4 separate regions of the Homo sapiens genome follow, and regions 2, 3 and 4 are each linked to region 1. Evidence: fine-mapped expression QTL. A gene starts in region 1. Each other region holds a variant in brackets. All regions are shown on one strand. Distances are from middle to middle.

Region 1 (7,540 bases):
GGAAAACTGGCATTTGAGATAAAAACAAGGGTGAGTGAGATCTGCCTGGGTCTGTGATTCTCCATGTCCTGCAATTTTTTCCAGAGCATGACTGAGAAGAAGGTTTATCTGGTGCAGAGAAAAGAGATAGCCTGAGTGTGGTGGACCTGCAGACCACCTAACATTTGGGGAAACTGAGGCAGACTGTCCTTCTCTTCTTCTCTGTGCTCCAGCCTCTCAGGTTTTGCAGTCAGGGGAAGGACCACACTCTCACATTAACTACATCCTTCCCTCACATCTCTCTTAAGCTTCCAGTGCTCAGGCAAGCTTCCTGACTGAGGTGGCCTCTGTTAACCTGCAGCCTCATGACATCTCTCTGCTTTCCTTCCAGCATTTTATCAGTTTGTAATTACGTATTAACTGCCGTGATTACATGATTAGTATGCCTTTCCCATGACACTAAACAGATATTACAGATCCTGGATATATATTTTTTCTTTTTAAAATTGAAGAACACACTAGCCGGGCGCGGTGGCTCATCCCTGTAATCCCAACACTTTGGGAGGCTGAAGTGGGCAGATCACTTGAGGTCAGGAGTTCATGACCAGCCTGGCCAACATGGCGAAATCCGTTCTCTACTAAAAATACAAAAAAAAAAAAAAAAAGTCTGGGCCTGGTGGCTCACACATATAATCCCAGCTACTCAGGAGGCTGAGGCAGGATAATCACTTGAACCCAGGAGATGGAGGTTGCAGTGAGCTGAGATCCCACCATTGCACTCCAGCCTGGGTGACAGAGCAAGACTGTGTCTCAAATAAATAAATAAATAAATAAGCCGGGCATGGTGGCACGCCCCTGTAATCCCAGCTACTCAGGAGGCTGAGGCATGAGAATCTCTTGAACCCAGGAGGCAGAGGTTACAGTGAGCCGAGATCACACCACTGCACTCCAGCCTGGGTGACAGAGCGACACTGTGTCTCAAAAAATAATAATAAAATAAAGTTGAAGAACATACGGAAAATGCACAACTCATAAGATTGCAGCTTAGTGAATATTACAAAGTCAACACACCTGTTGACCATCGTCCAGGTCAAGAAACAGAACAGTCCCGGAACCCCAGAAGGCACTTTCCCTCCTTCCCAAAGCTACCACTCTGCTGACATCCATAGGTTAGTTTTGCCTCCTTTTTAGTTTTTAATCTTAAAACTTAAAAAAAAGAGATATAACTTACATACAGTGAATTTTACCCTTTATATCGTACAGTTCTATAAGTTTTGATAAAAGTAAACCCCAAACTCAATCAAGATACGGAACAGTTCCACAACTCCCTCAAATTCCCTTGTGCCCTAGGTAGTCAACCCCTCCCCCAACCCCCAGCTCTTGAAAATCACTGATTTGTTTCCTTTACCTATAATTTTATATATTTCAGTGTTTTTTTTTTTTTTTTTTTCAGGGTCTCCCTCTGTCTCCCAGGCTGGAGAACAGTGGCACAATCAGGGCTCACTGCAGCCTCGACCTCCCAGGCTCAAGCGATCCTCCCTCCTCAGGACTCCCTCCAGCTCCCCCACCACGAAATAGCTGGGACTACAGATGAATGATGCAGTATTTTGGGGTGACGGGGTATGGGGGTGGGTGTTTGAACTCTGTCACTCAGTGTTTGTGAGATTCATTCATGATGTTGTGTATAACAGTAGTTCACCTGCATTGCTCTATCAATGTGCCATGATTTATTTATATGAATTGGTATGGATATACTACCAAGTATTTATCCATTGTATTGTCGATGGTCATCTGGGTTGTTTCCAGTTTGAGGCTTTTACAAATAATGCTGCTAGAAATATTCTTGCCCGTGCTTTTTTATGCTTATGGGTATGCATCTTCTTTATGGCTTGGTGATACCAGCGTCAGGAAGATGTGCTCCTATGTTAGTTTCCCTAAGTTTCACGCTACTATGGAAAGAGACCACCATTTCTGCTGTCCTTCCCAGCTTCTCCCCCACCTCCCCTTTTCCCTAGTTTATAAGACAGGAGAAAAGAGAGAAAGCAAAAAGTTGGAAAAAAACAGAAGTAAGATAAATAGCTAGACGACCTTGGCGCCACCACCTGGCCCTGGTGGTTAAAATAATAATAATAATATTAACCCCTGACCAAAACTACTGGCGTTATCCGTAAATTCCAGACATCGTATGAGAAAGCACTGTAAAACTTCTTGTTCTGTTAGCTGATGTATGTAGCCCCCAGTCACGTTCCTCACGCTTACTTGATCTATCATGACCCTTTCACGTAGACAGACCCCTTAGCGTTGTAAGCCCTTAAAATGGCTAGGAATTTCTTTTTCAGGGAGCTCGGCTCTTAAGACGCGAGTCTGCCGACGCTCCCGGCCGAATAAAAACCTCTTCCTTCTTTAATCCGGTGTCTGAGGAGTTTTGTCTGCGGCTCCTCCTGCTACACTACCTTTCGCACTTAGAGATACAATTGATCTGGAGTTCAGAGCTGTGTGTGATGGGAGGTAGGGGGCCAAGTTCCCTTTTTTCTTTTCCCTACGTGGATATCCCTTTGACCGAGCACCATTAACCAAAAATAGTTCCTTCCTGTGCTCTGCAGCCCCGCCTCTGAAATAAATTGTCCATACACGTGTATTTTTGTTTCTGGTCTCTATCTTATGTTCCACTGGTCTTCCTACTTTGCTTTTCTTTTTCAAGATTTTTTTCTGGCTGTTCTTGACCCTCTGAGTTTCTACATAGTCTTCAGGCCCCTATCTGGGTGCACTTCCTGGTATCCCAGCATCTGACATGTGCCTGGCGCGCAGCAGGAACTCACGGCTGGCTGTAGCCTGGATGCATCAGAGACGATGGCAAACCCTTCTCACACGTGCCAGGTTCCAGCAACCCACCCTAGCCCCGCAATTCCTCCTCGCTCACTCCCACCCCCTGCAGCGCACCCGCAAACGGCAAGGAGGCGTGCCCGCCGCGGCGCGCGTCACTTTCCCCCGGACCGACTGGCTCCGCCGCGGCTCTCCCCGCCCCCGCCTCCGCCTCCACGTCTTGGGGCCGGGCCGGAAGGCAGATCTCACCGCCTGCTTCCCTCTGCAGCGGTAGCACAAGCTCAGCGATGGCGGCTCCAGAAGGCAGCGGTCTAGGCGAGGACGCCCGGCTGGACCAGGAGACCGCCCAGTGGCTGCGCTGGGACAAGGTGAGGGGCACCAGCAGGCGGGGAGCGCCTGGAGCGGGGCCGGGTGCTCTGCCCTCTCCAGGCGCGGCGCTGCTTGCTCTGCCTGAGCTGCCTTCCCGCCCAGTGCATCCCGCTTCTCCCCCGGGAAGACCCAGGAGCGTACGGCCGCTGCTAGGCTTCCTTCGACCTGGCCGGCATGCGGCACGTTCAGAGTTAGGCCGGGAAGGCTTGTCCCCGGACGAAACCAGCCATCCGGCCGGCCGGACTGCAAGTTCGGAGTAGAGGAGCGAGCCAGGGTGGTGTAAGCGCGGCCAGACCCTGGACGCTGTCTAGTTGAGGGGCGCACGCCTTACTGTCACTCAGACCGCTGGCTCGTCGTCGGTAGTCGGCTGTGCATCCCCATGGACCCAGAATCGCTCCGTCCCGCGTATTCCTTTGGCCGCTGAGACCTTTGCAGAGCAGCGTTCTGGTCCGGTCCTCCCATCCCGAGGGCTTGGTTACAAACGTGGGTTGTCCTCCCGGGTGGGCCCGCCTGGCTTCAGGAGTCCCCCTTAGAACTTTGACTGCCAGGGAGGCACACCTGGGACACAGCACGGTTTTCTCTCTCTTCATTCCGTTTCTTAGAATCAGGAACCCAGCTCTGGACATCACTCCCTCTCCTCTCTATAAACTTGCGTCTCGCCCTTTCGACCTGTTCTGCTTGCTGTTAGGTTTTCTCGGAATGTCCCTCGCTGCTCTCCTGCTGAACTTGTTTCTCCCGTTGTGACTCATATTTTGTGCCTGAACTTAAATGTGGCTTACGTAGAGAGTCAGTCCTTCCTTGGCTCCGAAGCGTTAAATTATTTATCCCTAATATTCACTCTAAACAGTCTGTTATTTTCCTTTATAGCTCTTACTACAAATGGTAAAAACAAAAAACTCCAAAAACACTTGTTTGTAGGTTTGTTTAATGTCTGTCTCCAGGGCCGACTTCAGGGGCGAGAGACCCCTGCAGTCTCACAGGACTCGCGCTCCTTGAAGGGCCCACTGTTGTTTTAATGTCCTGCTGTCCTGTCTTGAAAGTCTTACTGGTAAAACAAGAGGTCACCCACTTTCATTGTGCACTGGACCTCCATAAATTATGTGGCCAGGCCTCTCTATTCTCACTACCTTGGTTTGTAGTGCCTGGCATAGGCATAGTGCATGACACATAGTAGGTCACTGAAATACTTGAATGAACAAAGAAGATTACAAGGTCAGTAGGGGTCAGGTCTTTGTCTTTATTTACCATTCTCTGGCCCCTACAAATAAAATGTCAGCAAATCCCATTTCCAGGATGCTATTGGCAACTCCTTGGGGGCGTTTTTCTTTTCCTGGGAAGATAACCTTGTGATTCACAAGGGAAGAAAAATGTTTCCATTTCTGATAACTTGTAGCTTGCAGAGTACAGAATTCTTTTGAAGTCAGAGTTCATAATGCACTTTCTCTAAGAAGAAGAAGAAAACAATCTAATTTCTACACAGTGTTGCATCTGTGTATAGAAAAATTGTATTTCTCTGGGTAGAGATGAGATGTCCTTTTTTTTTTTTAATCACTTCTCATGTTCTATCCTCTGTTAATTTCTTCTTTGCTTTGAGACTGGCACCTGAGAAGAAGCCCATTCATTCTCCAGTGAACCTCCCACCAGCTAAAAGCATTGCAGCCCTCTAGTCAGACTACCCCCGGCGACTGGCAAGGCGCCCTGGCAGGTGCCCTCTGTCTTTCCACCGTGCCTTCATCCCTGCTCTTTTCTCTGCTGTCAGTTTTGCTCACTGCCAGGGCTGATTCTGATCCTGCTGTACTCTTGACTTGTCATTCTTACCTGTCTGTCTCCTTTGTTTCTCTCAGGCTACTTAGTCTTTCATAGATATCAAAGACCAATTAAGATTTTCCAGACCTACACTATGAACAAGGGAGGATCACTCGATATTGAGTGTGGCAGTGAAGTCCATGTTTTCTGATTCACTCCACTAATATTTATTGAGGCTCTTTTATGAGCCTCTTTTATGTACCTGATCTGAGCCTTTCTTTGGGGCACCTGACAATCTGATAGGTAAGACTGTGTTCTGTAATTAGCATCTGCTGTTTTTCACCAAAAAAGATGGGGTTTACTTGATTCCCATTGAATCTGCCACAATCTGGAAATGTGGGCTTAATTCCAGAAAGCCAAGGTTTTATTGCAGTAGTATTTCAAAGTTTAATTAAATGGCCACGTCCTGCGTGAGTGCTCATCTAAATGGATAATGACTGTAAAACAGGAATATAAAGTCCTTCCTCTGTTGTTTTCCTGAATTCATAACTTAAAAGTCTCATATGAAACTAATGTGATTGTCATTATTTTTCTCCAACCATAACATTTTCTGCAACTACCATACAAAAAAAAAATAGGGCAATGTATAATGAACTTAAATGAATCATGTTAGCGTCTATTTGAAGCAGTTAATGTTATAGAAAAGGCACTAGATTAATGTTTATCTTGCAATTTAAGCAAGTCACCCAATCTCTGAGGCTTCCCCATCTATAAAATTGGGTTTCTGTTATTTGTCTACTTCTTGGAGATGTTACAATATTCAAACTTGACCAGGTATGTGAATGCCTGGTATGAATTATAAAACATTACAAAAGTAAGGTTTTGACTTAAGTTGTGTAATCTATCACTCTGGAAAATTTGAGGGCATTAGGGAAAAAAATGGACATTTAATCACAACTAAATGCCAGGTAGAGAAAGATATTTTACATTAATTTGAAGTAAACCACCTTAAAACCTTAAAAATCGTGTAAGGGAGGTTCTAGATTATTCCCATTTTGCAAATAGGGAAACAGAATTTGAGAACTGGAATAATCTGCGCAAGCACCTAGAGTTGGCAAGTGGTATTCTGGGATTCCATTCTGGGGGTTAGACTCATATGCTAAAATCTCTACTTTGATTTCTCCAAAGGTGCTTACCTTGACAGGAAAGAAAAGAACACTTACATTATAATGTCAAACTGACTTCATATTTCAGATTTCAAAAGCATCAGAAAATTGAAAGGTCTACATATATATATATACATATATATATATTTTCTATAGATTAGAATGATTGTGAATTTTTTTACATTTCTGATTTTTCATTCACTTGTCTGGCTGTGTCTATACATTTTTGTTTTTCAGAATTCCTTAACTTTGGAGGCAGTGAAACGACTAATAGCAGAAGGTAATAAAGAAGAACTACGAAAATGTTTTGGGGCCCGAATGGAGTTTGGGACAGCTGGCCTCCGAGCTGCTATGGGACCTGGAATTTCTCGTATGAATGACTTGACCATCATCCAGACTACACAGGTACCATGTTTTTTATAATTCTTAGTAACTCAATGTATCCCCTAGCTCATTTTCTATTTGGCAGACCTAATTTATTCTAATTATAGACATGTCTTACCAGCTTGGCTAGACACAGGAAGTCACCACCATTTACTCCATAAAGTAAGGCTTGCACAATAGGTCGAAGTAGCACTTATTCAGGACTCATATAGCCATCCATCCATTCATTCATTCATTTAACACACTTATTGAGTACATACCATGTGCCAGCACTGGGGATATAAGAATGACTCGAACAAACAGATTCTCTCATGGAGCTTTCATTCCAGTATAAATGCACCAACTAAGCTGACAACTTTTAAGGTCCTGTAATTTTTGCCATGATTACATAGCAAGTGCTAAAAAGCTTTTCTAACTGCCGGAGTTACCAAGAGCCTGTTCTCCTTTGTTTTATAGTATGGATTGAGTCTGTCTTAATTTGTGAATATTTTTGTCAGAATCTAGACCCAGCTTTTAGGAAGGAGATAATTTGACAAAACAGAAGTGCTTCTACTGGGTATTGGCAGTACTGTTTATGAGGGAAATGAAATAGAACAGATTATTCACATCAGTATTTCTTCACCTTAGACCTGTTGATGATGAATGTCACTTTAATTGTGGGAAAAGAAAGGCTAGAAAAAATTGCCTAATAGTGATTACATGTGCCTCACGTATACATCCCAGTGTAAAAGGCAGAGCTGGGCATGTTGTAACAAAACTCCAACAAGGAAAGCTTATCTAAGGGTATAGAATTACCACAGGGGCCAGGCGCGATGGCTCACACCTGTAATCCCAGCACTTTGGGAGGCTGAGCCAGGCAGATCACTTGAGCCTAGGAGTTCATGACCAGCCTGAGCAACATGGTGAAACCCTGTCTCTACCAAAAATACAAAAATTAGCCAGGCGTGGTGGTGTGCACCTGTAATTCCAGCTTCTTGGGAGGCTGAGACAGAAGGATTGTTTGAACCCGGAAGGCAAGGTCGTAGTGAGCCGACATTGTGCCACTGGACTCCAGCCTGGGCAACAGAGCAAGA
Region 2 (7,540 bases), 29 kb after region 1:
ATTTTTTAAAATAATCACCTCCCCTGCATTTTCAGTTCTTTGTTTCTTGAAGAGCTCTTAGATGCTGGCTTTCCAAGACTGATGTTCTACTTTTCTTGTTTCTTTCTTTCTTCTTCTGTTTTTCTGGGAGATTTCCTTAGCTTTAGCTTTCAGTGCCTCTGTTGGCTGTTTCAGTTATAACTAATTTATTAAAAATAGTGTCCTGTTGAAACAGTGTCTTGCTCTTTCACCCAAGCTGGAGTGCAGTGACATGATCATAGCTCACTGCAGCCTTGATCTCCTGGGCTCAAGCAATCCTCCTGCTTCAGCCTCCTGAGTAGCTGGGACTACAGGTGTGTGCCGCCATGCCCAGCTAAGGTTTTTTAGTTTAGTAGAGACAGGATCTTGCTGTGTTGCCCAGGGTGATATTCCTTTTTTTTTTTTTTTTTTTTTTTAATGTAAACAATATCTTACCTCTCTAAGGATTATAGACCTAATTATAGTTTTTTAAAAATATATGTCTTCTTTTTCTGCTACATTCTCTTTATTTCCACCAAGTTCTTTTTATTCTGTTTGTTTTGGACTTTGTCTTTTACATGATGTCTTTCCCCAAAAGTCTGATGATCCTTAATTTTCCTTTGGGCACCTAAGAACTGATTGGAAGCTCTGTGTACATATGCAGATCAAATGACATACTTCACTCAGAGGATATTGGTAGCAAGTTAACTTTATAAGGGGATCCCCCTGATTTAATGAGACCTTAATCACCTACCCAAGGATGATAAGATGAGATGCCAAGGCCCTGGAGGCATGACTGGGGCGGAGCTGGGGGTGTCAGCCTGAGGACTTCTACTTGATCCCTCTGTTTTCATCATGCCCTGCCCAGGTTCCCCAACTCCTGAATGTTTCTGATTTAATCTCCAGAGAATTTAAACCATCTCCTGCAGAAATGGAGAAGAGGTGGTTCTGTGACGGTGTGGGCTCAGGGCAAGGAACCGGGATGGTCTAAGAACTTCTTTCAAACCCTGTTCCTGCTTTCCACCCCTGCCTCACATCTGCCTTTTGCAGTACCTGGTGCCTCTGGTTCTTGAGCTTGGCCAGGATTTTGCAGAGCACCTTGCCTCAGTTCTCATCCATGTCTCCTTCCGCAGGCACTCAGATTTCATTCTCTGGGTCCCACCAGACCAGTTCTGTGCCTCCATCTGTTTTCTGACTTGTGCGATCGGTTGGCAGCCCCATCAGCTGCTACCTCCTCTTTGTCTCTTTGCCCGTGTGTTTATGCTATTCAAAGTACCTCTATTTTAATGGAGTTTTGGGACCTATCAAATATAAATATACCATTTCCTCAAGACCATTTTTCTTTTCTAACCAGTAAATTTATATGGCATTTATTTTTTCTTACAGAAGCTTCCTTTTTTTTCTCTTTTTCTTTTCTTTTTTGGAGGCATAGTTTCACTCTGTTACCCAGGCTGGAGTGCAGTGGCGCAATCTCGGCTCACTGCAACCTCCACCTCCCGGGTTCAAGTGACTCTCCTGCATCAGCTTCCTGAGTAGCTGAGATTACAGGCACCCGCCACCATGCCTGGCTAATTTTTGTATTTTTAGTAGAGACGGGGTTTTGCCATGTTGGCCAGGCTTGTCTCCAACTCCTGGCCTCATGTGATCCGCCCTCCTCGGCCTCCCAAAGTGCAAAGTGCTGGTATTACAGGCATGAGCCACCGCGCCCAGCCTGGAAGCTTTATTTAAAAAAAAAAAACAAAAAAAACTCCTTATGGAATTTTCTTTGCAAAGATTCACTTTATAACAGTAAATATAATCTAGTTTGAGGTTTTTTTTTGTGGTGTATTAATCTGTTTAAGTCAATATCTTGTGAAATGATGTGTTTAAATAAAACTTTAATAACTTCAATAGAACTAGGGAAGTAAAAGCTAATACACAAAGTTACTTAATTTTCTTTATTTAAAATTAATTTAGTTATGTTAATTCACAAATAAAAATTGTATACATTTATGATGTACAATCCGATGTTTTAAAATGTATACATTGTGATAGCTAAAATCAAGTTAATTAGAATGTGTTACCTCACATATTGATCATGTATTTGTAGTGAGAACACTTAAAATCTACTCTCTTAGCAATTTTCAAGTATACAATGCATCATTATTAACTATAGTCACCGTATTGTACAATAGATCTCTTGAACTTCTCTTCTGTCTAGCTGAAACTTT[A/C]GGCCCTTTGACAAGCATCTCCCCAAACTCCCCTCCCTTATCCCCACCCTTCCCCAGTCAGCCCCTGGTAACCACTATTCTGCTCTCTGCCTCTGTGAGTTCAACCTTTTCGGATTCCACATGTAGGTGAGATCATGCGGTATTTGTCTTTCTATGCCTGGCTTATTTCACTCAACATAATGTCTTCCAGGTTCTTCCATATTGTTGCAAATGACAGGATTTCCTTCTCTTTTAAGGCTGAATAGTATTCCATATAGTAGACCACATATTCATAAATTACTATCGTTTAGTATTTCATTCATGTGGAGTACATTTTCTGATTTCCTCCAGAATGTTTTTCTTTTCTAACCAATAGATTTGTTTGGCATTTATTTTCTTACTTATGCAAGAGAAGATATTGGTTAGGCCAGAATGTTACTATTTAAATTTATAATGTGTGCATTAATTCCTAGGTTCTTCCCACTAGTAAAAGCAGCCAAATGATCACCTTCACCTTTGCTAATGGAGGCGTGGCCACCATGCGCACCAGTGGGACAGAGCCCAAAATCAAGTACTATGCAGAGCTGTGTGCCCCACCTGGGAACAGGTATGATGTGGATGGCAGCTGGTGTGATTTTTACTCCCCAGACTTCCTAACTGGTTCTATTCAAATGCCAAGTGAAATGTTCCATCTTTCTAATAGGTAATTTAATTAGAAATGCTGTTTCAGAACCTGCACTAATATTTTGGTATTAACAGTCAGTCTCAGCATCCAGGGAAAAGCTTACTTTTTACTTTCTTACTTTTGTCCTAAATTTCTTTGTATGGGAAAATTTTATCCTTATTTCAGTATAGTAGTAAAAGTGCCTTTTTCTAAACACTTTTCATTGGTAGCTAACACCAATGAGATTTTCTCTTTTTCTCAAACTTCAGTCTTCCCATGTCTCTGATAAAATAAATTATAATCCGGGCCGGGTGCGGTGGCTTACACCTGTAATCCCAGCACTTTGGGAGGCCGAGGCAGGCGGATCACGAGGTCAGGAGATTGAGACCATCCTGGCTAACACGGTGAAACCCCGTCTCTACTAAAAACACAAAAAATTAGCCGGGCGTGGTGGCGGGCGCCTGTAGTCCCAGCTACTCGGGAGGCTGAGGCAGGAGAATGGTGTGAACCTGGTAGGCGGAGCTTGCAGTGAGCCGAGACTGCGCCACTGCACTCCAGCCTGGGCGACAGAGCGAGACTCCATCTCAAAAAAATAAATAAATAAATAAATTATAATCCATTCCACATGCATTCAAGAAATATCTTTGAGTACCCATTGTAGACAGGTCTGTGCTGGGTTCTGGAGGGGGCACAGAGAGCCTCATCAGAGAGAGTCCTTGCTGCCAAAGAACTGATGGGCTGGTAGCTTCAGGTTCAAGTTTCTGTGACCTCAAAAAAGTGTTTGAGTTGGTCACTCTGTAACAACTTAACATTTTGCACCTTAACAAGCTCAGTGCTGTCCTTAGTGTGTGTAAGTGTGATACTGCATGCCTATCCAACATGCCGTTAACCAGCATTTCCCTATTCAGAATACAGTTGAAAATCAGGAAAAGTTTTTGTGAAAGGTGAATTAAGTCAGTGCTGTCTGACAGAACTAAAATGCAATCCACAGATGCAATTTTGATTTTCTACTTGTCACCTTTTAAAAGCGTAAAAAGAAACAGGTGAAATTAATTTCAATAATGTATTTTACTTAACCTAGTATATCCAAAAATTATTACAACATATAATCAGTATAAATATTATTAATGAGATGTTTTACATTCTTTTTTTTTCCTCTGGAAAAAAGTCCTCAAAATTGATTCAGTAATTTTACACTTACGGCATATCTCAATTTGAATGCTCCATTTTTATCAGAAATACTTGATCTGTAGAGTTAATAAAATTTAGATTAGACAAAGTAGATTTTAATACCCAGATTATTCCAAACATACTTGTTTTCTAATAACTGAATCAAGTATCAGTTTTAAAACTTGAACTCAATTAACTGAACTTCATAAAATTAAAAATTTAGTTTCTCAGTGGCGCTTGCCACATTTCAAGTTCTTAGTAGCCACATGTGTCTAATGGCCGCTGTAGTAAACAGCACCCATCTAGGTAATTGTGACAACATAGACAAACCAAAGCTTTGCTCATAGAAGAGTTTTTCCAGCCTCGTGAATCAAACTTGTGCAAATAAAAGCAGATGAAAATTCCTGAGCATCTTAAATTGCCAAGCTAGTAGCAGATTAAATGTAGCAAATTAGAGGAATGGGGAAGTATAACAAACTTTTCTTAGGCAAGGAGAAGTGACTGCTGATAGCAAGAAAGGAAATATTAAAACAAAACAAAACTATAAAACGTGGACACAAGGACTTAGAAAGCTCACCACTCCATGAGTTTATCATGAGGGAAATAGCATTCTACACCCAAGTGAGCCCAGAATACAGCTCCACTCCAACACAGTCATGCTTATGGCTCTCAAATGTCAAGATGTTCAATAAAGAGATATTTAAGAAGTCATGGGACTATGTAATATATTTTCACTATGGATTCCCATTCAAAACCTTTTTGTGCTTAAAGTGCAAAAACTCAACTATTAAGTGAACATATAAAAGCTCATTTTCTAAGAATTCTGGATTACCAATATTTTATTGTAATATTATGCAAGAATCTTGTTTTCGTGTGCATTAGATAGTAAGCTCTTTGCTGCTATATTGCATATAGTTTTTTGTAAACATTTCTTTATAATTCTTGCTTATTTAGTGTTTTCTTATTTCTATGTTTCATTCTTTTAAAAAGAAATGGACAGTCCAACTAAACAGTCCAACTTAAGGATCTGTTTTTTCTGTATCTTGTCCTTTCCTTTTCATTATCTGATGAAAATATATCTTATACTTCGGAAAGCTTTCCTTTGTAATGATAACACTATTTAAATGTTTAAGGCTTTATGGTATTAACATTTTTCACATGGCTTATTGAGTGGACTTAAATTCAAATATTAGCTTATAAATTAGTGAAAAAAACCTTGAAAATTTGTCCTTTTATTATATGCATTGAAACATTGCTTCCATTTATTAAATGGGACATTAAGCGCTATGTCAGTAGATGGATATGTGGTCACGGCTTAAGCAAGGCACCAGCATACCTAACGTACAACAGCAATAAAGTTTTTTTTGTTTTGTTTTTTGTTTTTTTTTTAAGACATCTCTCTCTGTTGCCCAGGCTGGAGTGCAATGGTGGAATCTTAGCTCACTGCAACCTCTGCCTCCTGGGTTCAAGCGATTCTTGTGCCTCAGCCTCCTGAGTAGCTGAGATTACAGATATGCACCACCACACCCAGCTAATTTTTTGGTGTTTTTTTTTTTTTTTTAGTAGAGACAAGGTTTCATCATGTCGGTCAGGCTGGGCTCGAACTCCTGGCCTCAAGTGATCTGCCAGCCTCAGCCTCCCAAAGTGTTGGGATTACAGGCGTGAGCCACTGCACCAGGCTAGCAATAATGTCTTCACTAAGATTTCCTTCTTTCCTGAAAAGCTTAAATATTATTAATATGCTTTATGTCATAAATTTCAATTATTCATAGAATTTCATGGCCTTCTAATCAACTAAAATGGAAAATCCTTTTCAAGTATGTGCTGCTTTAAAAATATATTTTTGTCAGGGGAGATGTCCTTAGTTTTGTCCAACTTTTTTATTTTGAACAGTTTCAAACCTACAGAAATGTTGGAATAAGAATGCAGTGAATACCCACACACCCTTCACTTAGACCAAACTTTGTATGTAAAGAGCCAGATAGTAAATATTTTAGGATTTGCAGACATGTGATTTCTGTCACCACTACTCAGCTCTGCTAATGTAGTAAGAAAGCAGCCATATGTATAAAGGAATGGGCAGGGCTGTGTTCCAGTAAAACTACATGAACCACAGTTTGTTGACCCCAATCCAGACTGAGCAATTGCTAACATTTTGCAATATTTGCTCTCTCACCATATATGTTATGTATTTGAGATTTTTCTGTACCATTTGAAACACTCTGTGATACTTCATGACACATCATAAGACTTCATGATGCTTCACTCCTGATATTTCAGTATGCATCTCTTAAGAACACTCTCTTAATATTAAGGCAAATAGATAATAATGGTACTAGGCAGGTTTCCAGTGGACCAACAGAAGCAGTAGAATGTACCTATTAAGAGATTGTTTGCAAGGAATCAACCTGTGCAATTGATTGTAGGGGCCAGCTCGGCAAGTCTGAAATCTGCAGGGCAGGCTGTCCAGAAAGGGAGCCTGGAATTCTTGGGCATGGGTTAAAGTTACAGTCTACAGGTGGAATTCTTCAGGAAAACCTCAGTTCCATTCCTGATGCCTTTCAGATAGAATCTAGCCCATCCACATTGTCTAGGATAATCTCCTTTACTTAAAATCAACTGATGATAGATATTAATCACACCTACAGGATACCTTCACAGCATCACAACATTAGTGTTTGAATAACTGGAGACACTATCCTAGCCAAATTGACACCTAAATCCCCAAAAGTCCCCAAAATAGCTGTTTTCTCCCCAATTTATAATCAAATCAAGAACACTGCATTGTATTTACTTGTCGTTTAGCTTAAATGTTTTTTCATGATGATTAGAGAAAAATGATACTTTCCTAAACATTCTGATAAAGAGATCCATCTAGATTCTTTTCAGAAACAGGAATTCCTAACCCTGGCTTAAATGATTATAGGATGTGTCCTGTTATTTTTAAAGATGTTATGAAATATTCTCAAGCATTAATTTAACAAATGGAACAGTTATCGATTAGGATGGAGAATAGTAACACAAAATTTTTGTTTTAAGAATTGTACCACTAAACCTTACACGGTGGTACTGATTTCTTTTTCACACATAAAATGCAATATCAAAAACATATCACTGCATACATGAATCGTAATGTTCACTCATGTCATGATTAAGAAATAAATTTGAATAATAAATTAGTAATCAGTAAATTCACCAAGTTTTAGTTTTAAGTATACTTTAAAAAATGATTAGCTTACATGCCTTCCTGAGAACTGTTATTTTCTTCAAAGCACATTTATGGAGAAGGAAAAGAAAACTGATATAATTCATATGTACTTAAAAAGCATAATTACTTTATATGTTGCCAGTAGGGATAAAAATAATTATAATGATAGCTACATTTATTGAGGTCTTTGGGCCAGGTTCAGTGCTAATTGCTTTATATAATTTATCGCAATCTGTACAGAAACTCTCTTGAGAAGATAAAGTCTTTATCCCAATTTTACAAATGAGGAATCTGGGCCTTAGAGAGGCCAAG
Region 3 (7,540 bases), 21 kb after region 1:
GGGAGAGAATGGATACGTTTTGTTTTTCTGAAATGGAATTAGAAAGATGTTCAGTTGTCTTGTGCATTCTTGCAAACCTTGCAGTTTTGAGAGCCCTGTTTCTGCCTTGTATCATTTTCCACTGTGTATCTGATTCTAGGAGCGTGAACAGGGAGACAAAGGTGAAGTTTGTGCACACCTCTGTCCATGGGGTGGGTCATAGCTTTGTGCAGTCAGCTTTCAAGGCTTTTGACCTTGTTCCTCCTGAGGCTGTTCCTGAACAGAAAGATCCGGATCCTGAGTTTCCAACAGTGAAATACCCGAATCCCGAAGAGGGGAAAGGTGTCTTGGTAACCTAATTTTTTTTTAAATTATGAAATCTGCTTTTATATTCAAAACTATTACTGTCAAGTAAAATACATTTTTATGTGTTTTCATTGTGCTGAAGAAAAACTAATTTCAGCATGGAAATATGTATGTTTGGCTGGGTGCAGCGTCTCATGTCTGTAATCCCAGCACTTTGGGAGACCAAGGCAGGCAGATCACTTGAGGTCAGGTGTTCGAGAACAGCCTGGCCAACATGGCAAAACCCTGTCTCTACTAAAAATACAAAAATTAGCTGGGTGTGGTGGTACATGCCTGTAATCCCAGCCACTTGGGAGGCTGAGGCGCTAGAATTGTTTGAACCTGAGAGATGGAGGTTGCAGTGAGCTGAGATTGCACCACTGCACTCCAGCCTGGGTGACAGGGTGACAGAGCGAGACTTTGTCTCAAAAAAAAAAAAAAAAAAAACAAGAAGTATGTATATTTGTTAGTCATTAATTTCTTAAAGGATCTTTCAAATTAAACACCCCAGGATCAGGATATGAGAACTGAGCTCTAAATGGTGCTTCAAATTCAGTTAATTTAATTTAATTTAATTTGCCGTGTCTCCTTAATGCCAAAAAGAAGCAGTAATAGAGTGAAACTTTAGCAGGTTATGATTTTTATTTCTTGTCATTTTTCTGATATGAAGTGTTGCTTACATTATGGTTTCTGTAACATTTTTAAAGGTTGGGGTAGCAGTGGCATTCAGAGAATCAGTTTATTTTGTTTTATTTGTGAGGCTGATCACACAGCAATGCCCCGAAATACCAGTCCAACCACAGACCTACTGGCGCATGTGCAGCAGGCACACTGGTAGGCTTGGGTCACACACCGATGCTCCCATTATCTGACCTCTGACTTAGGAAGATACTATGTGACCAACCAAGACCAGCTGCAGCTTTTGTTTGCTAAATTTCACTTCTGGAGCTGTCTTGGTTGGTCCTATATTATCTTTCTAAGAGGGGAAAGACCTCTTGAGTTCTTAAGGAACTGAATGTTTTTAAAGACTATCATATGCTCGATTCTTGATTAAATAATCTTTTATTTTCATATTCTTCTTCAGACTTTGTCTTTTGCTTTGGCTGACAAAACCAAGGCCAGAATTGTTTTAGCTAACGACCCGGATGCTGATAGACTTGCTGTGGCAGAAAAGCAAGACAGGTAAAATTAATTGTGATTACCTATATTATAGAACATATAAAGGATGATCTCTTCATTGGTAAAATGTTTCTGGGGAGACGGGACCTATTTGGAAACATTTCCCATTTATTTTGCAAATGATCATTTCACTGAACCTCCTGTAGAGTCTTCTAATGGAGAGCAAGATAGAGATCTAGTGTGGGGGGAGGTTACGTGATTGGCAAGCATAATGCAGAGTAAATCAACCCAGTATATATTTCAAATTGAAACTCCTATTTGGGAACTTCTCATTTTGTAATTGATCTTTTTATAAGTAATGTCTCAGTGTCTAATGAGGGTAAAGCACTTTGGTGCTAGCTGTATGCTTCAGTATTTGCTGAGGGGTTTAGGAGGGAGCAGTACCTTCAAGGAGATGCTGAATTTAGTTTGGACAGACCAGGGAGGAATTCCTGTGGGGTATCGGCACAGTGTTTAAGACAAGTCTGACCAGAGAGTTTGTACAAAGGAGAAGTAAGTACGTGGGGCTAAAGTTGAAAGGTAGGCAGGGCCCAAGCAATTTTGGGCGTCAGGTAGCCTATGTGATGTTTTGGGGGCAGGAGGGTGCTGCTGCTGAAATGGTAGGGTTTTCAGATTGTGATAAAACAGGTTCCATTCTATATCAGTGTTGAGAAAGTTAAGCTAAGATGATACGTCCTGATAGGTGAGATTTACTTCTAGCCATCTGGACTGCCAAGAGAAGCAGAAATTACACATCTTTTCTCTGATGTTCTGACCATTTAGGACTGAGCTTGATCTTAAGGGGTACTGAGCTGTCCCCTCTCAGAATCAGCAATACTGACCAGTCCAGAAATTGAGATAGCAAAACTTACTCTATATATGGGGGATCTTGCCAGCATATTTGTTATATTTAAAACCAAAGGCTTTGCCAAAGATTAATATAGAGCCATTGTGTGTCATGTGTGACATACTTATTTTATACAGTCTTCAAAGACAGGATGTCTGTTCAGGCAAACTGGCTGATATATATGGTAGCTGCTCAGATGTTTGTAAAATGGCAGTTACATTTCTGACCAGTTATTTAAAGATGATGAATAACAAGAACAGCCTTGCAGAAAATACTTAGATGCTTTGTTTGCTAAATTGTTTTATCCCCATGACACTTTAGAGTCTTCCTTAAGATTATGGAAATGAATGGTGGTTGTTGTTTTTTTTTTCTTTCAGTGGTGAATGGAGGGTGTTTTCAGGCAATGAGTTGGGGGCCCTCCTGGGCTGGTGGCTTTTTACATCTTGGAAAGAGAAGAACCAGGATCGCAGTGCTCTCAAAGACACGTACATGTTGTCCAGCACCGTCTCCTCCAAAATCTTGCGGGCCATTGCCTTAAAGGAAGGTTTTCATTTTGAGGTAGGGTGTTTCTGGGACTCACTCATTTTCCTTTCATCTGCTCTGTAGAAGATCTAAGGCATGTCTTTCTCTTTTGGATTATCCCTTTAGGAAACATTAACTGGCTTTAAGTGGATGGGAAACAGAGCCAAACAGCTAATAGACCAGGGGAAAACTGTTTTATTTGCATTTGAAGAAGCTATTGGTAAGAAGTGATCATGAACATTAAGGAATTGGCTGCAAGGCAAAAGGAAAAGGTTTGGATTGGGATTCAAAGATCCACAGTGAAACACGGTTTATTTTGCCTCTCCAGCACTCAGGTTGAATGTCGAACTGTCCTACTCCAAAATTGACATCTCAGATGATTTACAGCCAAAAGGAATGTCTTAAAAACAACTAAGTCATTCATGTCAGAATCCTTTGCCTGGATGACTCAAAACAGTGACATTGTATGCTTGGCTGCCGGTACATGTATTTTGGGAGTTGTGATGTTTCCTCCACTGTGGTGGTTAATATCCAGGCCTAAACACTGTGGTATTTAATGTCCCTCCTCCTCCAAAAGTGCTAATGAGGATCTATGCTACGGTCTAGCCAGAGGAAAGGAGAAGGAAGGCATGGTTTGCTGCTGTCATCAGAATGATACTCACCCAAAAGGATGACCCAGGTCCAGCCAGAATGACAGAAAAACCCTTGTCCTAAACTGTCAATATAAATGAACAGAAAGGAGAACTAGCTATAGAAATTTGAAACTCACATTGTACCAAACGCTTTTAGCTATTAATTTAGTAAAAACTATTATGCATTAGATTTATTTATATTCATTTGTATATTCTCTGCAACACTAACACATGATTTAACTAATCAAAGCATAATCGCTCAGGTTCTGCTCTTTTATTGTCAGATTTGGCAGACTTGTCTTTCCGTAGCTTTTTATTTTAAGAAA[G/A]ATTTTCTTTCATTTATCAAGTATTAATTGCATGTCTATTACTCAGTGACTCTAAAAGAAATGGATGGCACTGACCTTAGCCTACAGCAGCTTAGATAGATTTAGTTAAGTAATCACACACAAGAGTAGAGGCCAGATGTCAAAATGAATAATGTAACTAACAAATACTATTGGGATTCAGAGAAGAAAGAGATATGTATTGACTAGGACAATTAGAAACAATTTCATGAGCTGGAAGGAGTTTCATGACTCTAGTGATTGAGCACCATGTGGCCAGGAGGGAAAATCTTGCAGGTTCTTCAGCAAATACTTCTTGAAGGCCTGCTATGGGCTAGGCACTGGGCTAAATTCCTAAACATAAGGTATTAATGAGAAATGTGCATACACGCAACACTGTACAACCTCTAATATGCAATAGCCAGGATTCATACTCATATGTGGTTTGACACAGTATTGTATAGATGTATGTATGACGTGTGTTTCTGCAGGATACATGTGCTGCCCTTTTGTTCTGGACAAAGATGGAGTCAGTGCCGCTGTCATAAGTGCAGAGTTGGCTAGCTTCCTAGCAACCAAGAATTTGTCTTTGTCTCAGCAACTAAAGGCCATTTATGTGGAGTAAGTTGTTATTGACTCTGTTGGATTGAAATAATATTTTGAAATGTTCTATTATATACTTATGCATGAGATACTAATATCCTTTCTAATGCTCTTATTTTGGTGATGAATTCTATTTCTTATAAAAATTAAATAAGGCTGGGCACAGTGGCTCATGCCTGTAATCCCAGCACTTTGGGAGGCTGAGGCGGGTGGATCACCTGAGGTCAGGAGTTCGAGACCAGCCTGTCCAACATGGTGAAACCCCGTCTCCACTAAACATACAAAAATTAGCTGGTTATGGTGGTGGGCACCTGTAATCCCAGCTACTCAGGAGGCTGAGGCAGGAGAATTGCTTGAACCTGGGAGGCAGAGGTTGCAGTGAGCCGAGATCGCGCCATTGCACTCCAGCCTGGGTGACAAGAGCTAAACTCTGTCTCAAAAAAAAAAAAAAAAAATTTAAAAAAACTAAAGAGATCACCTTTTCCTTTTGATATGTAACAAGTTAGTAATTACTATTCCCGATCGCATTAATTCTTAACAAATGACAACATGAAAGAATGTGATTTTAAGTGTCCAGTATCAAAAAAGATTGAATGTCTTCATAATACATCTATTCATTTTTTTGTAGCACTTACTCAACTCTGCCTTGCCAGTGTAGTGCGTAAGCATCCAAAGAGAATACAGAAATGCGTGTGACCTGGCTCTCTGTGCAAATGCAGGCGGAAGACCAGGCAGTCATTTGGTGATCCCTGGGGTAGATTGTTGGACCTCTTTTTTTTTTTTTTTTTTTTTTTTTTGAGACGGGGTCTTGCTCTGTCACCAGGCTGGAGTGCAGTGGTGTGATCTCGGCTTACTGCAACCTCTGCCTCCTGGGTTCAAGCAATTCTCCTACCTCAGCCTCCCGGGTAACTGGGATTATAGGTGTCCCCACACCTGGCTGATTTTTGTACTTTTAGTAGAGTTAGGGGTTTCACCATATTGGCCAGGCTGGTCTCAAACGCCTAACCTCAGGTGATCCACCCACCTTGGCCTCCCAAAGTGCTGGGATTACAGGCGTGAGCCACTGTGCCTGGCCTAGACCTCTGTTTTAATGGTCTTTTAAAAATTATTCCTTTGGCGTCAGTTTTGGCTGTTACATTTATTTTATTATTTATTTTATTTTATTTTATTTTTTGAGATGGAGTCTCTCGTTGCCCAGGCTAGAGTGCAATGGCACAATCTTGGCTCACTGAATCCTCCACCTCCTGGGTTCAAGCGATTCTCCTGCTGCAGCCCTCTGGAGTAGCTGGGACTACAGGTGCCTGTCACCATACCCGGCTAATTTTTGTATTTTTAGTAAAGACGAGGTTTCTCAATGTTGGCCAGGTTGGTCTCATACTCCTGACCTCAGGTGATCTGCCCGCCTCGGCCTCACAAAGTGCTGGGATTACAGGCGTGACCCACCACACCCAGCCATATTTATTTTAGAATACACTGGTTGGTACATGTTCTGTGTCCACCCTACAAAATTATTTGTTCCTCATGTGCATGAATTTGTATTTGTTTGATAGGTATGGCTACCATATTACTAAAGCTTCCTATTTTATCTGCCATGATCAAGAAACCATTAAGAAATTATTTGAAAACCTCAGAAACTACGATGGAAAAAATAATTATCCAAAAGCTTGTGGCAAATTTGAAATTTCTGCCATTAGGGACCTTACAACTGGCTATGATGATAGCCAACCTGATAAAAAAGCTGTAAGTAATGTCTTCTCTTTTCAACTAACCTCTTTTCTATTTACCTTTTAAAATAATTTGAATAAATTATTTAACCATACAATTAATTGAAGCTGATTTTAGGCACTTAGGCGTGATTATAAATAAGCTATAAAAAATATATGGAAGCCGGATGTGGTGGCTCATGCCTATAATTCCAGCACTTTGGGAGGTTGAGGTGGGCAAATCACTTGAGATCAGGAGTTCGAGACCAGCCTGGCCAACACGGCAAAACCCGGTCTCTATTAAAAAATACAAAAATTAGCTGGGCGTGGTAAGTTAAAAACCGCAGGCTAGAACTGAAAGAGACTCTACTAGGCTGGGAGCGGTGGCTCACACCTGTAATCCCAGCACTTTGGGAGGCCGAGGCAGGTGGATCACTTGAGGTCAGGAGTTCAAGACCAGCCTGGCCAACATGGTGAAACCCCATCTCTACTAAAAATACAAAAATTAGCCAGGTGTGGTGGCTCATACCTATAATCCCAGCTACTCAGGAGCGTGAAGCAGGAGAACTGCTTGAACCCAGGAGGCAGAAGTTGCAGTGAGCTGAGATTGCACCACTACACTCTAGCCTGGGTGACAGAGCAAGACTTCATCTCAAAAAAAAAAAAAAAAAAAGAGGAACTAGTCATCAAAGCCTGTGTGGTCATTTCGCACCTTAGGCAATAAGTGATCAGAAGTGTGGAACCTGTCTGTGGACACAGAGCTTAGTTGGTGGTGGTCCAGGGAGAATCTGGGTTTTCTATCTCAGGATCCAGCATTCTCTCCCTGTCAGGAGTTCTCACACTTGCAGGAGCATCAGTAACCAAGAAGGCTGGGGAAACAGAGTGCTGGAGCCCACACCTGGACTTTCCGATTCAGTAGGTCTGGGGTAGGAGCCAAAAATGTTCATTTCTAACAAGGTCCCAGGTGGTACTGATGCAACTGGTCCTCACTTTGAGAACCACTGTTTGTTTTCTAGTTAGTGTACTCTGTTCTCTGAGTGTATTGGAGCTGTTGGCTGTAAAGCCTGAGTTTGCATTCTTTACACCAAGCAGATCTTTCACTGGAGACAAAAGAAGACACAAAGGTAGCAGAAGAGTGTTGCTTTCTATGTTGGGGTTGGGGGAGGAAAGTTAAGAATATCCTTATGAGATGTTAGGCACGTTCTTTGATATTTTCTTTGTTCTATTTTTCATTTTCATCTGCACACAGCATATTTTTAAAATAGAAATAGTATGAAAACGCTTACGATGAAACGTGGCAGTCCCACCCCTGCCACCTCATTGCCATGTCACCAAGACTAGATTTGTAAATCATGTGCTCATATAGTGATGTTTTGATATACCAGTTTTACAATTTGTTGACTTTCTATTTTTGAGATAAAGATTTAG
Region 4 (7,540 bases), 39 kb before region 1:
ACTCAAATGTTGCCTTTTTCTAAACTACCCATGGCCCCACCCCACCCCATCCTGTGCCTATAAAAGTTCCAGCCAGTAGGCAGGAACTATGGCTAGATGTTGGAGAGAAGTGGCTTGTCTTCAGAGAGACAACTTGTTGGTGTAACTTCAGAGAAGAATCTGGCCAGAGACAGCTGGACCTCAGGGGAAGATTACCTTCCCTCACTATCCTCTTTTCAGCCCTCCTTCCTGCTAAGAGTCACTTTCATTGGCAATAAAATCCCCCTGCATTTACCATCCTTCAATTCGTTCATGCAACTTCATTTTTCCCGGATGCCAGATAAGAGCTTGGGAGACACAAGCGTGGATTCAAAAGGCTGTCACACTGTCCCTTTGCTTTCACAGGTGGAGGGCAGCTGCCTCACATGAAAAGGCAAAGGGCCTGAGCTGTTAACTGAGCTGTTAACACTTAAGCCATCCAAAGATGGCAGAGCTAAAAGAGCTCTGTAACACTCCCTCTGGGGCTTTGGGGGTTGCAGACACCCCTGCCTGGATGCTGCTGTGGGGCCTGCATGGAGTTTGCTCCTGCTGGCGCTAAAGCATCCAGCCAGTTCCTGCACCTTCTCACCTGTCTGCTCCCTCCTACAAGGGCTGGAATGCAGCAGGTCTGAGTGAGTGGAGTGTGATCCCACCAGTGCCAAAGGAGCTGATTCCAGCACTCATCTACTCCAGTTGCCACACTCGTTTGATCATGTGCTCCCTCTCATGAAGAGTTGAGAGTGGTAGGCTGAGTAAATGAAGCACACCTGTCACAAGTCCCTCGAAGGGGTCAGGGAAATATCCTGCTTCACTAGTAGTGATGTTAAAGAAAGGACTGCGTGAAAGTGTCAAATTTGAAGACTGTAGGAGAGGAAGAATTAGCAGGGGTTGGTGATTAACTAAAGATCAGTAGAAGCTGGACATCAACCATGAAATCTCAGTGTTGTGACACATCCCATCCTTCCAATCTGCAGTCTGTGGAAGCCAAAAGCTCTCACCTGGATTCTGTCCATTCTCAAGGGCTGCATTTCCCTGGATTCTTCTCCTCTGTGACCTCTTTCTTTCTCAAGAGCTGCATCTGTTCACACCAGACAAACTCCCAGTGGAAAACTCATCACTCTCTTTGATTTCCCAAACTAGCTCCTACACAGCCCACATTTATGAATTCCATAAATATGGCAGATATTATAGGCTTGGTTGATCCAGCACCATGCCTTCTCCCTTGCCTGCATCTATTATAGAAGATATAAAAGCTAAATTATTTCCTTTCATCCCTTATATTCAGGGAGGCCACGTGATGCAAGTAGAAACTTGGTGAGGATATTTCTGGGAAAGAACTAACTATCTTTAAGTTAGTTAATTCTTAAAGAAGAACATGGCCATTGTTGGTACCTTTTTCCTCATTTTCCTTCTCCCTGCCTTGAAATATAAACGTAATGTGTGAGCCCATAGCAACTACCCTAAGACCATAATGTGGCAAGCATGAGCACAAAAGCCAACAGAACAAGGATGGTAAAGTGGAAATATAGACAGTGTCTGGGTCCCTGATGGCATCGTTGAACAGCTGAATCCATGCCAACTGCTACATAGCTCTGATTTTAAATAAACTCCCATTGATGTAAGCGACCATGAGTCTAGTATTCTATTATTTGCAGCCTAATATGTTCCTAACAAACAAAGAACTCTTTGTTGTGATATTTTGGAGGTCCCAGGGAAGGTGAAAATTATGCAACTTTTCACCATCTTGCTTATCCCCTACTAATATGGTTTGGCTGTGTCCCCACCCAAATCTTATCTTGAATTCCCACATGTTGTGAGAGGATCCCGGTGGGAGGCAATTGAATCATGGGGGCAAATCTTTCCCATGATGTTCTCATGACCGTGAATAAGTCTCATGAGATCTGATGGTTTCAAAAAGGGAAATTCCCTTTCACAAGCTCCTCTCTTTGCCTGCTGCCATCCTTGTAAGATGTGACTTGCTCCTCCTTGCCTTCCACCATGATTGTGAGGCTTCCTTAGCCACATGGAACTGTAAGTCCAATAAACCTCTTTCTTTTGTAAATTGCCCAGTCTCAGGTATGTCTTTATCAGCAGCATGAAAATGGACTAATACAGTAAATTGGTACCAATAGACTGGGGCACTGCTGAAAAGATACCCAAAAATGTGAAAGTGACTTTGGAACTGGGTAACAGGCAGAGGTTGGAACAGTTTGGAGGGCTCAGAAGAAGATAGGAAAATGTGGGAAAGTTTGGAACTTCATTGAGACTTGTTGAATGGCTTTAACCAAAAGCCTGATAGCGGCATGGACAATAAGGTCCAGGCTGAGTTGGTCTCACATAGAGATGAGGGACTTGTTAAGAAATGGAGCAAAGGCGACTCTTGTTATGTTTTAGCAGAGACTGGGCATTTTGCCCTTGCCCTAGAGATTTCTGGAACTTTGAAATTGAGAGAGATGATTTAGGGTATCTGGTGGAAGAAATTTCTAAGCAGCAAAGCATTCAAGATATGACTTGGGTGTTGTTAAAGGCATTGAGTTTTAAAAGGGAAACAGAGCATAAAAGTTCAGAAATTTGCAGCCTGACAATGCAACAGAAAATAAAATCCCATTTTCTGAGAGGAAATTCAAGCCTGCTGCAAAAATTTGCATAAGTAATGAGGAGCTGAATGTTAATCCATAAGACAATGGGGAAAATGTCTCCAGGGCATGTCAGAGGTCTTCATGGCAGCCCCTCCCATCATAGGCCCAGAAGCCTAGGAGGAAAAAGTGGTTTTGTGGGCCAGGTGCAGGGTCCGCCTGCTGTGTGCAGCCTAGGGACTTGGTGCCCTGCGTCCCAGCCGCTCCAGCCATGGCTGAAAGGGGCCACCATAGAGCTTGGGCCATGGCTTCAGAGGCTTACACCCTCTGAAGCTTCCACATGGCAGTTTGGCAGCTTCCACATGGTGTTCAGCCTGCGAGTGCACAGAAGTCAAGAACTGGGGTTTGGGAACCTCTGCCTAGATTTCAGAGGATGTATGGAAACCCCTGGGTGTCCAGGCAGTAGTTTGCTGCTGGGTCAGGGCTGTCATGGAGAACCTCTGCTTAGGGCAGTGCAGAAGGGAAAAGTGGGGTTGGAGTCCCCACACAGAGTCCTTTCTGGGGCACCACCTCGTGGAGCTGTGAGAAGAGGACCAACATCCTCCAGAATGATAGGTCCACTGACAGCTTGCACCATGCACCTGGAAAAGCCACAGACAATGCCAGCCTGTGAAGGCAGCTGGGAGGGAGGCTGTACCCTGCGAAGCCACAGGGGTGGAACTGCCCAAGACCATGGGAACCCCGCTCTTGTATCAGCATGACATGGATGTGAGACATGGAGTCAAAGGAGATCATTTTGGATCTTTAAGATTTAACTGCCCTGCTGGATTTCGGACTTGCATGGGGCCTGTAGCCCCTTTGTTTTGGCCAAATTGTCCCATTTGGAATGGCTGTATTTACCCAATGCCTGTACCCACATTGTATCTAGGAAGCAACTAACCTACTTTTGATTTTACAGGCTTATAGGAGGAAGTGACTTGCCTTGTCTCAAATGAGTCTTTGGACTGTGGACTTTTGAGTTAATGTTGAAATGAGTTAAGACTTTGGGGGACTGTTGGGAAGGCATGATTTGTTTTGAAATGTGAGGATGTGAGATTTGGGAGGGGCCAGGGGCTGAAACCCAAATTCAGGGTTTGGCTGTGTGCCCACACAAATCTCATCTTGAATTCCCACATGTTATGGGAGGGACCTGGTGGGAGGTGACTGAATCATGAGGGAAAGTGTTTCCCATGCTGTTCTTGTGACAGTGAATAAGTTTCATGAAATCTGATGGCTTTAAAAAGAGCTTGTCGCCTGCACAAGCTTTTCTCTTTGCCTGCCATCATCCACGTAAGATGTGACTTGCTTCTCCTTGCTGTCCGCCATGAATGTGAGGCTTCCCCAGCCACGTGGAACT[A/G]TAAGTCCAATTTTACCTCTTTCTTTTGTAAATTGTCCAGTCTCGGGTATGTCTTTATCAGTCACGTGAAAATGGACTAATACACCTACTCTCTCTATGCTCTCTTCATTTTTCTCTCTTTCATTTCCCCATCTCCTCCGAAGAGCGAAGCGGAATTATCTCCTTGTTTTCTACAGAGCATTTGTGATCATGATGGATCTTTTTTAACTTAAATGTAACTTAGACATCTCTTCCTCCATTTCAAATATTTACCTTTTTTTTCCCCCAATGAAGTCAGCTCTCTCCCTAAAGAGAATTCTGATGCCAGGTGGTTCAGATAAAAATATCTTCTACTTTCCAACATAAAATATAAAGCATTTCTAAAAAGGATACCAGTGCTTAAAGTCCTAGAGATTGAAAACAGGACAACACTGCCACTATTGATAAGTTAATTCTGCATAGCAGTGAGAATCGATGACAGTGTTGACTCTGTTGGAGTGCAGCATGCTGTCTATTAAAGGCTGAAATATTGGACTTCTCTCTCCAGCCAAGGAAGGTCGTTACTGTGGGGCTTATTCTGTAACTGCCCAATGGGTTCACCTTGCCAGCTGCCTAGGCAGAGCTGATTTATCAAGACAGGGAAACTGCAATGAAGAAAGAGTAATTCACACAGAGCCGGCTGTGCGGGAGACCAGAGGAGTTTTATTATTACTCAAATTAGTCTCCCTGAGCATTTGGGGATCAGAGTTTTTAAAGATAAATTGGTGGGTAGGGGCTCAGGAAGTAGGGAGTGCTGATTGGTCAGGTTAGAGATGAAATTATAGGGGGGTTCAAAATGAGGTTTTCTTGCTGTCTTCTGTTCGTGGGTGGGATCACAGAATTGGTTGACCCAGATTACGGGTCTGGGTGATGTCAGATGATCCATCGAGTGCAAGGTCTGCAAAATATCTCAAACACTGATCTTAGGTTTTACAATAGTGATGTTATCCCCGGGAGCAATTTGGGGAGGTTCAGACTCTTGCAGCCAGAGGCTGCATGACCCCTAAACTGTAATTTCTAATCTTGCAGCTAATTTGTTAGTCCTGCAAAGGCAGACTGGTCCCCAGGCAAGAAAGGGGTCTTTATGGGAAAGGGCTATTATCAACTTTGTTTCAGAGTCAAACCATAAACTAAATTATTACCCAAGGTTAGTTCAGCCTATGCCCAGGAATGAACAAGGACAGCTTAAAGATTAGAAGCAAGATGGAATTGGTTAGGTCTGATCTCTATCACTGTCATTTCCTCAGTTATAATTTTTGCAAAGGTGGTTTCAATTCAACTGAGCATGCTCCCAGTATCTTGCACCTCCACTTTGAGATGATACTTAAACCCCAGAGAAAAGCCATCTGCCTCAACCAGCTGCACCTAAGACCCTGCCCTGAGCTTGATCAGCCATGAAGTGCTCACCAGATGTCATGCCAGGCCCCTATTGACTCCGATAGGGATGGCACCATACCCTAGAGGGCAAATAAGAGACCTGGAGACAATGAATGAGACATAGGGTTTATCAGGGAAACTCCATACAGGAATGGCCCAGTGGTGGCAAGCTGGACAGTAGCACCATTACTGTTTATAAAAAGCATGCAGTTTATACAGCATTTTCACTTAGGACCCTCCTCTCAGCAACCTCCATTTAACCCAAAACAAAGGGCCTCAATCCCTTCAATCTCTGGGTTGGCCACTCCTGGATTCCTTAGCTTGGAACTCCAAACACACATGCTTCTTAGACCCTAAAATCATTCTCAGGGTATGTTTAAATTATTGTTGTAAGGTGCATCTGCCATATACCAGGTAAAAACATGAGAATCTGTACCACACTGGGCTCAGAAAGTTCGTGTGTTCAGCCAGCAGAGGTCGGCTGACAAGACCATCTCAACCTTGGCTTGGAAAAGCTCAAGACAGTTAGTGGCTTCCTCAGAAATATGAATCTGTGTGTTCTCTACCAAGCAATAATTGAGATTACTAGGAATAATTGAGAATGTACTTCCTGATGAATGAGGGAGTACAGGGAACTTCACCTTAAAATTTGGCTCCTTGGTGTAAGGAATGAATTAAAGTCCCTTAGAGCTCAGCAAAAGCTGGAAGAGACTTTTTCTCTAGCTACATAAAGACAGGACAGACCCACCAAGGAGAATAATGGTTTTTCCTTTCCTTCCCTGTTATCTCATTATCTTTTGCAGAAAAGAAGATCACAAATGTAACCGCACCTGAACAGACTCTTTCACAAGATAATAACTGTCTCTCAGGCTCATTCTGTTTTCAAAGAGAACCATTTACAAGTTAATCTCCACTCCCATCCATTCATTCTCCCTAGTAATCATGTACTGCCCCTAAACAGAATTACCTATATTCCCCATCTCTCCCCCAGCCTCTGAAATAAGGCTATATAAGTATCTGGGCCCCACTGGGATTTGGGGGTGATATGGTTTGTGTGTTTCCCCACCCAAATCTCATCTTGAATTGTAATTCCCACAATTCCTATGTGTTGTGGGAGGGACCTGGTGGGAGATTATTGAATCATGGGGGCGGGTCCTTCCAGTGCTGTTCTCATAATAGTGAATAAGTCTCATGAGATCTGATGATACTAAAAAAGGGAGTTTCCCTACACAAGCTCTCTCTTCTCTTGTCTGCCACCATGTGAGATGTGCCTTTCACGTTCTGCCATGATTGTGGGGCCTCCCTAGGCAAGTGGAACTGTAAGTCCAATAAACCTCTTTCTTTTGTAAATTACCCAGTCTCGTGTAGGTCTTTATCAGCAGCTTCAAAATAGACCAATACAGCAAATTGGTACCAGCAGAGTGGGGCACTGCTAAAAAGATATCCAAAAATGTGGAAGCAACTTTGGAACTGGGTAACAGACAGAGGTTGGAACAGTTTGGAGGGATGAGAAGAAGATGGGAAAATGTGGGAAAGTTTGGAACTTCCTAGAGACTTGTTGAATGGTTGAATGGCTTTGACCAAAATGCTGATAATGATATGGACAATGAATTCCAGGCTGAGGTGGTCTCAGCTGGAATAAGGAACTTGTTAGGAACTGGAGCAAAGGTGACTCTTGTTATGTTTTAGCAAAGAGACTGGTGGCATTTTGCCCCTGCCCTAGCAATTTGTGGAACTTTGAACTTGAGAGAGATGATTTAGGGTATCTGATAGAAGAAATTTCTAGCAGCAAAGCATTCAAGAGGTGACTTGGGTGCTGTGAACAGCATTCGGTTTTGAAAGGGAAACAGAGCATAAAAGTTCAGAAAATTTGCAGCCTGATAATGTGATAGAAAAGAAAATCCCATGTTCTGAGGAGAAATTCAAGCCTGCTGCAGAAATTTGCGTAAGTAACGAGGAGCTGAAGATTAATCCCCAAGACAATGAGGAAAATGTCTCCAGGGCATGTCAGAGGTCTTCATGGCAGCCAAGAAGGAGGCCCAGAGGGCTATGAGGAAAAAGTGGTTTCGTGGCTGGACCCAGGGTCCCCTTGCTGTGTGCAGCCTAGGGACTTGGTGCCCTGCGTCCCAGCCACTCCAGCCATGGATGAAATGTG

Alleles and levels. Alleles are on the strand shown, and positions count from the first base shown. SD is a standard deviation of normalised expression in the study named. Not every link is listed here.
As copies of A replace G in region 4, the expression in monocytes after R848 of the gene that starts at base 3,043 in region 1 goes down (large effect, 0.89 SD a copy in Quach 2016).

Evidence for each region. PIP is the estimated chance that this variant, and not a neighbour inherited with it, causes the effect.
Region 2: its variant is fine-mapped to the expression of PGM2 in whole blood (INTERVAL, PIP above 0.99).
Region 3: its variant is fine-mapped to the expression of PGM2 in whole blood (INTERVAL, PIP 0.92).
Region 4: its variant is fine-mapped to the expression of PGM2 in monocytes after R848 (Quach 2016, PIP 0.95).

The regions. Positions count from the first base shown.
Region 1 is chr4:37,823,644-37,831,183 of GRCh38, forward strand. PGM2 (phosphoglucomutase 2) reads left to right here and starts at 3,043. Exons shown (of 14, transcript NM_018290.4): 1 at 3,043-3,170; 2 at 6,321-6,488. The coding sequence starts at 3,090. RefSeq lists enhancers at 1,512-1,681, 2,714-3,215, 3,216-3,715 and a silencer at 2,926-3,225.
Region 2 is chr4:37,852,949-37,860,488 of GRCh38, forward strand. It overlaps PGM2 (phosphoglucomutase 2), which reads left to right. Exons shown (of 14, transcript NM_018290.4): 13 at 2,660-2,793. Among named protein-coding and RNA genes, the nearest start is that of PGM2, 30 kb to the left of the region's middle. The variant A/C (reference allele first, on the strand shown) is at 2,208.
Region 3 is chr4:37,844,225-37,851,764 of GRCh38, forward strand. PGM2 (phosphoglucomutase 2) reads left to right here. Exons shown (of 14, transcript NM_018290.4): 7 at 140-329; 8 at 1,409-1,506; 9 at 2,707-2,887; 10 at 2,978-3,071; 11 at 4,298-4,427; 12 at 5,960-6,149. Among named protein-coding and RNA genes, the nearest start is that of PGM2, 21 kb to the left of the region's middle. The variant G/A (reference allele first, on the strand shown) is at 3,810.
Region 4 is chr4:37,784,508-37,792,047 of GRCh38, forward strand. No RefSeq gene overlaps it. Among named protein-coding and RNA genes, the nearest start is that of PGM2, 38 kb to the right of the region's middle. RefSeq lists an enhancer at 2,836-3,335. The variant A/G (reference allele first, on the strand shown) is at 3,991.